2 separate regions of the Homo sapiens genome follow, and region 2 is linked to region 1. The links come from fine-mapping of genetic effects on gene expression. A gene starts in region 1. The other region holds a variant in brackets. All regions are shown on one strand. Distances are between the middles of the regions.

The links.
Region 2: its variant is fine-mapped to the expression of ARMH1 in whole blood (TOPMed, PIP above 0.99).

The regions. Positions count from the first base shown.
Region 1 is chr1:44,673,641-44,676,545 of GRCh38, forward strand. It overlaps ARMH1 (armadillo like helical domain containing 1), which reads left to right and starts at 1,074. Exons shown (of 12, transcript NM_001145636.2): 1 at 1,074-1,233. TMEM53 (transmembrane protein 53) reads right to left here and starts at 841. Exons shown (of 3, transcript NM_024587.4): 1 at 691-841. The coding sequence starts at 751. RefSeq lists an enhancer at 285-786 and silencers at 554-693, 844-893, 964-1,013.
Region 2 is chr1:44,720,234-44,723,138 of GRCh38, forward strand. All of the region lies in intron 6 of ARMH1 (armadillo like helical domain containing 1), which reads left to right. RNU5F-1 (RNA, U5F small nuclear 1) reads right to left here and starts at 1,669; the gene lies at 1,552-1,669. LOC105378690 (a long non-coding RNA gene) reads right to left here. Exons shown (of 5, transcript XR_007066059.1): 2 at 1,726-1,806. The variant G/A (reference allele first, on the strand shown) is at 1,545.

The DNA.
Region 1 (2,905 bases):
TGAACTCACTCCATGCCAGGCCCTTTACACAATCTCCAGATGGCCCCAACAGCCCTATGAGGAAGGTTACTATCCTTATCCCGGTTTTGCAGAGGAGGAAACTGAAGTTCAGAGAAGGTAGCTTACCAAAGGTAATCCAGCTCCTAAAGGAAGGAGTCAGGATTTCAGTCGAGTTCTACCCGACGGCAGAGACTGCACTGTTAACCACTGCCGAGAAGAGTGGAGAGGGACGGCTAAGGGTTCTGAGTCCCGGGCTTCTGCGAGGATCGGTGACCCCGCGAGCCTCCCCCTCCACGCCTTCGGGAAAATAATAAGTGATAGGCTAGATGTGGGAAGCCCAATCCCAAACAAAGGAATCAGGAGGGATCCAGCTTTCGGCAGCCTTCAGCTATGAGAAGTGATTAAAGGGCATGGACCTGAGCACCCCGGACAGGAAAGACAGAAAAAGAGGTCCCAAGCGAGCAGCTGACTCGGGCAGAGGCGGGGCTCGCCAGGGAGGAACACTCTGGGGCGGGACTTACGAGGGGCGGGGCTCTCTGAGCCTCTCTAAGTCTAGGACCTGCCAGACCCTATGAGGGGGCGGCCCGAGGGAGGGCGGGGCCGCATGAGGGGCGGGGCTACAGCTGCGCTCGCAACCCACAGGTTCATGAGGTCACCTCCCCGCGCCTGGACCCAACCCTCATTCCATACTCTGGCTCCAGCAGGGCTGATCCGGGATCTCGATGGTGTAGTCCAGCTCTGCCGAGGCCATGGTGAAGGCGCCGGCCCAGAGCACGGGTCTCCAGCCGGAACTCCCGCTTGCGCACCCGTGCCTCACCCGGGCGCCTCCTGGGCGCCGCCCAATCACCACACACCTCCCCCAACACGGCCCAATCCCTGCGCCGCGCTCTGTGACCTCCCGCCTTAGCAACCACCGAGTCTCTTCCAGAGCCTCTCGCCTCACCCCACTAGCTCGGCCCTAGCAACCATGCCCCGCCCCTATTACTGACCCGCAGCCATTGGCTAATTCGCTTGATCTGGATCAGGTATTGGTCAGCCGGGGCGCCGGTCAGGAAGAGTCCCCACCCTCTCATGTAGGTGAGAGGCGGCTGAAGAGTTGCTGTATTCTGGGAATGGGCAGGGTCACTCGTCCGAACAGAGTCCTATCCTACGCGGCGGAAGAGTGTGCCCTTTGACTTGCATCGTCTACCTACCTCTGCCATCCTCTACCAGCCGCAACTGCGAGGGCTGGAGGTATAAAACCGTACAAAACGGCCTAGGGGGCGCGTGCCGACCCAACCTCCACCCAGTGGGGTTGAGGCATATTCTGGATGGATGGATGGATGGATGGATGGATGGGTGGATGGGAAGCAGTCTTCAGTTGATGACTTTAGAGAATGCCCTGTTGATAGGGCCCACCGAGGAGCTGGGAGTGCAACTTTCTTGCATTTATCTATATTTACATACTATGTGCCAGCATATTTACATACTATGTGCCAGAGACTGGGTGGGCTAAATAAGGTTCCTTAGGCCCTAGTGAGAATCAAGCTTTTGGCCCTCCCTCTCCCATGTCTTAACGGGAGAGGGAGAGAAACCATGCATGAAGCAACTCTGATTCTGCGTGTGAGATAAATACTACAGAAGAGTAAGGATTTGAGGAGCTCAGAATCAGAGAAGGGGCATTTATGGCAGTGGGGTTGGCTCTTGAGCTGGGCCTTGAAAGACTTTTAGAGATAGGGAGGGGGAAAGACTCTTTGCATGCCAGGCGCGGTGGCTCAAACTCGTAATCCCAGCACTTTGGAAGGCCAAGACGGGAGAATGGCTTGAAGGAGTTCAAGACCAGCCTGGGCAACATAGTGAGACCTTCATCTCTACAAAATTAAAATTTTAAAAATTAGCCAGGCATGGTAGCGCATGCCTGAAGTCCCAGCTACTTGGAAAGCTGAGGTGGGAGGATCACTTGAGTCAGGAGGTCAAAGCTGCAGTAAGCCATGATTGTGCCACTGCACTCCAGCCTGGGTGACAGAGTGAGACCCTGTCTCAAAAAACAAAACAAAGAGCCCAGTGTGGTGTCTCACCCCTGTAATCCCAGCACTTTGGGAGGCTGAGGCGGGCGTATCACTTCAGGTCAGGAGTTCGAGACCAGCCTGGCCAACATGGCGAAACCCCATCTCTACTAAAAATACAAAAATTAGCCGGGCATGGTGGTGCACACCTGTAATCCCAGCTACTTGGGAGGCTGAGGCAGGAGAATGGCTTGAACCTGGGAGGTAGAGGTGGCAGTGAGCCGAGATTGCTCCACTGCACTCCAGCCTGGGTGACAGAGCGCGACTCTGTCTCAAAAAAAAAGAAACATTAGTGCAGGAACTGGATTGAGGATTGGGAGAAGGAGGGAGACCAGTTAGGAGGTTGTTTCAGTAGTGGGGAAGGATTATGGTGGCACAAAGCATGGAGTGGCAGCTGAAATGGAAAGGGCAGGATGAATTCCTTAGACACTTATAGCTAGAAAAAAATGGACTTGGTTACTAATTGGGTGTGGGGGAAGTAAGGGAAATGAAGGATGACTTCTAGATTCCTGGTTTGGGCAAACAGGAAGGAGAGGAAGCAGGGGTTTTTAGGAGAGGGTCAGTTCTGGGCACGGTGAGCTTGGGGTGCCAATGGAACATCCAAGTGGAGGTATCCAGAAGGCCATTGGATATGCCTAACTGGAGTTCGCCAGATAAGTCTAACTGGAAGTTGCAGTGTGGGAGTCTATGGGGCCTTATAGATGCCAGCCACACCAATAGATTTGTTGAGCTTGCCCAGGGAGTAAGTGTAGAGTCAGAAGAGACCTAGGACAGAGCCCTGAGAAACACCCAAGTTTGAGGGTCTGGCAAAGGAGGACGAACCTGCAAAGGTAATCAAGATGAAGTGTCCAAAATGGTAA
Region 2 (2,905 bases), 47 kb after region 1:
TATACGGGGAGACAGCTGCCACAGTTCTGGCTCTCCAGCCTGTCCAAGATTCAAGCTAGGAAAGTTCTGTAGCTGTGTGAATGAGGACCACAGTGGCCACTGCAGAGCCTCCTCTGGGGTCATCCACCACCAGGCTGGTGGTTTCTAAGCGTGGTCCTAGGCTGCCATGACCCAAGCCTCGCCTGTTGGAATGCAGAATCCAATGAGGTCTTTTCAACAAGATGTATGGAGCATGCATTGTGTACATGGAATGGTTTCAGGCTCTAGGTAAACAGAAGTGAGATGTGTCAGATATGTTCATTGGAGTTCACACACTAGTGAGGAGACCATTTAGTGGATAGTACTAGAATTCTATAGCAAGAATTCTATACGGTGCTACGGGTTCAGAGACATAGGACATCTACTCCTGAGTGAAGAGTGAAGGCAGAGGAGAGCAGGCCAGGGGCAGCTTCCTGAAAGTTGATTTCTCAGCTGAGCCTAGAAGAATGAGTAGCAATAGCCAGATAAAGAAGACTTCTCAGGCCGGGCGTGGTGGCTCACACCTGTAATCCCAGCACTTTCGGAGGCCAAGGCAGGTGGATCACTTGAGGTCAGGAGTTCAAGACCAGCCTGGCCAACATAGTGAAACCCTGTCTCTACTAAAAAATACAAAAATTAGCCAGGCGTGGTGGTGCGCACCTGTAATCCCAGCTACTCGGGAGGCTGAGGCAGGAGAATCCCTTGAACCCAGGAGGTGGAAGCTGCAGTGAGCCGAGATCGTACCACTGTACTCCAGCCTGGGTGACAGAGTGAAACTCCATCTCAAAACAAAACAAAACAAAAAAAGGGCAAAAGAAAGAGAAGGCACTGAGATTCTGCTCTCGGTGGGAAGTCTGATACCTCTAGCATACATACTTTAAGTTGGACCCCAGAAGACAGTACCCTCAAGGTCAAGGTGGGCCAAAAGTAAGCCGGCCCTCAGGTGGTCTTGTATGGATTATATAACTACCAGGTGGTCCAGAGAACCTCAAGTGTTGAATGTGGACAAAGGTAGTCCAGAATTGTTTGTGTCCCCAGGTACCTGATAAAAACAAAAGAAAACTATCTCTGGAAGAAAGTATCATCATCCTAACTCTTAAGTTTTTCCTACACTTAATTTTTCAAATATGAGACCAGTCCAAAGTATAAGATAATCATGCACACAAAGTCATCACTATAAATTGGAACTAGCACACTAGAAAGACTCACAAGACTTCAGCCAAATTATTAGATACAGACTGTCAAAAACTAGGTTTTCTTTTAAAAAAAAAAATCTTATAAACATTTAGCTTCCTAAATGTTTACAAGAAGCTAAAAAAACATGACAGTAGGCCGGGCACTACAAAAAGTACACAAAATTAGACAGGCTTATGAGGCTGAGGTGGGAGGATTGCTTGAGCATGGGAGATGGAGGTTGTAGTGAGCCGCGACCACACCACTCCGCTACAACCTGGGTGACATTTGTGGAGCTACCCCAACCTCCCAAAGCATGAAACACCCCACCCACACGTCTCTCTTTAGTAACA[G/A]AACATTCAGCCTTGCCTAGGCAAGACTTCAAAAAATTTAACCATAAACTCATAGTTGTTTTTCTCCACGGAAATCTTTAGTAAAAGGCGAAAGATTTATTCGTTATGAAGAGAAACCAGAGATCTGCCTGTTAGCCTTTTGCCTGGCTTCCCAGCTATTGACTGGTCTCCCTCTACTTACGGTGCCTTTGGACCTGCAGACAGAAGCTTTTCTTCCACTGTAGAAAAGTGTCCTAAACATGTTCTCACTGGGTAAAATCTCCTGACAAAGAAAAAAAGTTTAAATATTATTATTCAAACAGATAACCCTGGTAATAATTCTCGTATCTACAATGCATTCTGGGATGCAAATGAGCTGAGCGCCGGAACAAGAGTTCCTCTAAACCCTCTCTCTCTTACCAGTAAATGGAGAGAGGCACTTGACTACTGAGCTGGGGAGAGCACATGGCCAAGTCCTGTCTTCCATGTAGCCACATGTGTTCAGAGTAGCAGTGCCCGGTGCACAGTGACTCACACCTGTAATCCCTGCACTTAAGGAGGCAGAGGTAGGAGGATCGCTTGAGCCCAGGAGTTCAAGACCAGCCTGGACGACAGAGTAAGACCTTGTCTCAGAAAAAAAATAAAATTTAAATTTAAAAAAAAGTCCAGGCGTGGTGGCTCATGCCTGTAATCCCAGCACTTTGGGAGGCCGAGGCAGGAGTTCTCGGTCACTTTGGGAGCACTTTGGGAGGCCTGAGCACTTTGGGAGGCCTGAGGTCAGGAGTTCAAGACCAGCCTTGCCAACATGGTGAAACCCTGTCTCTACTAAATACAAAAATCAGCCGGGCGTGGTGGCAGACGCCTGTAATCCCAGCTTCCCAGGAGGCTGAGGCAGGAGTATCGCTTGAACCCGGGAGGCAGAGGTTGCAGTGAGCGATTGCACTCCAGCCTGAGTGATGACAGTGAAACTCCGTCTCAAAAAAACAAACAAACAAAAATACTAGCATTTACTGGCTGGGCCCACCGGGCCCAGTGGCTCATGCCTGCTATCCCAGCACTTTGGGAGGCCGAGGCGCGTGGATCACGAGGTCAGAAGTTCAAGACCAGCCTGGCCAAGATGGTGAAACCCCATCTCTACTAAAAATACAAAAAAAAAAAAAAAAAAAAATTAGCCGGGTGTGGTGGCGGGCGCCTGTAATCCCAGCCTACTCGGGAGGCTGAGGCAGGAGAATTGCTTGAACCCAGGAGGCGGAGGTTGCAGTGAGCCGAGATCGCGCCACTGCACTCCAGCCTGGGCGACAGAGTGAGGCTCTGTCTCAAAAAAAAAAAAAAGGTAGCATTTATGCTGGTGTGCCATCATCTTAGCATCTCCTTCTCCTCCT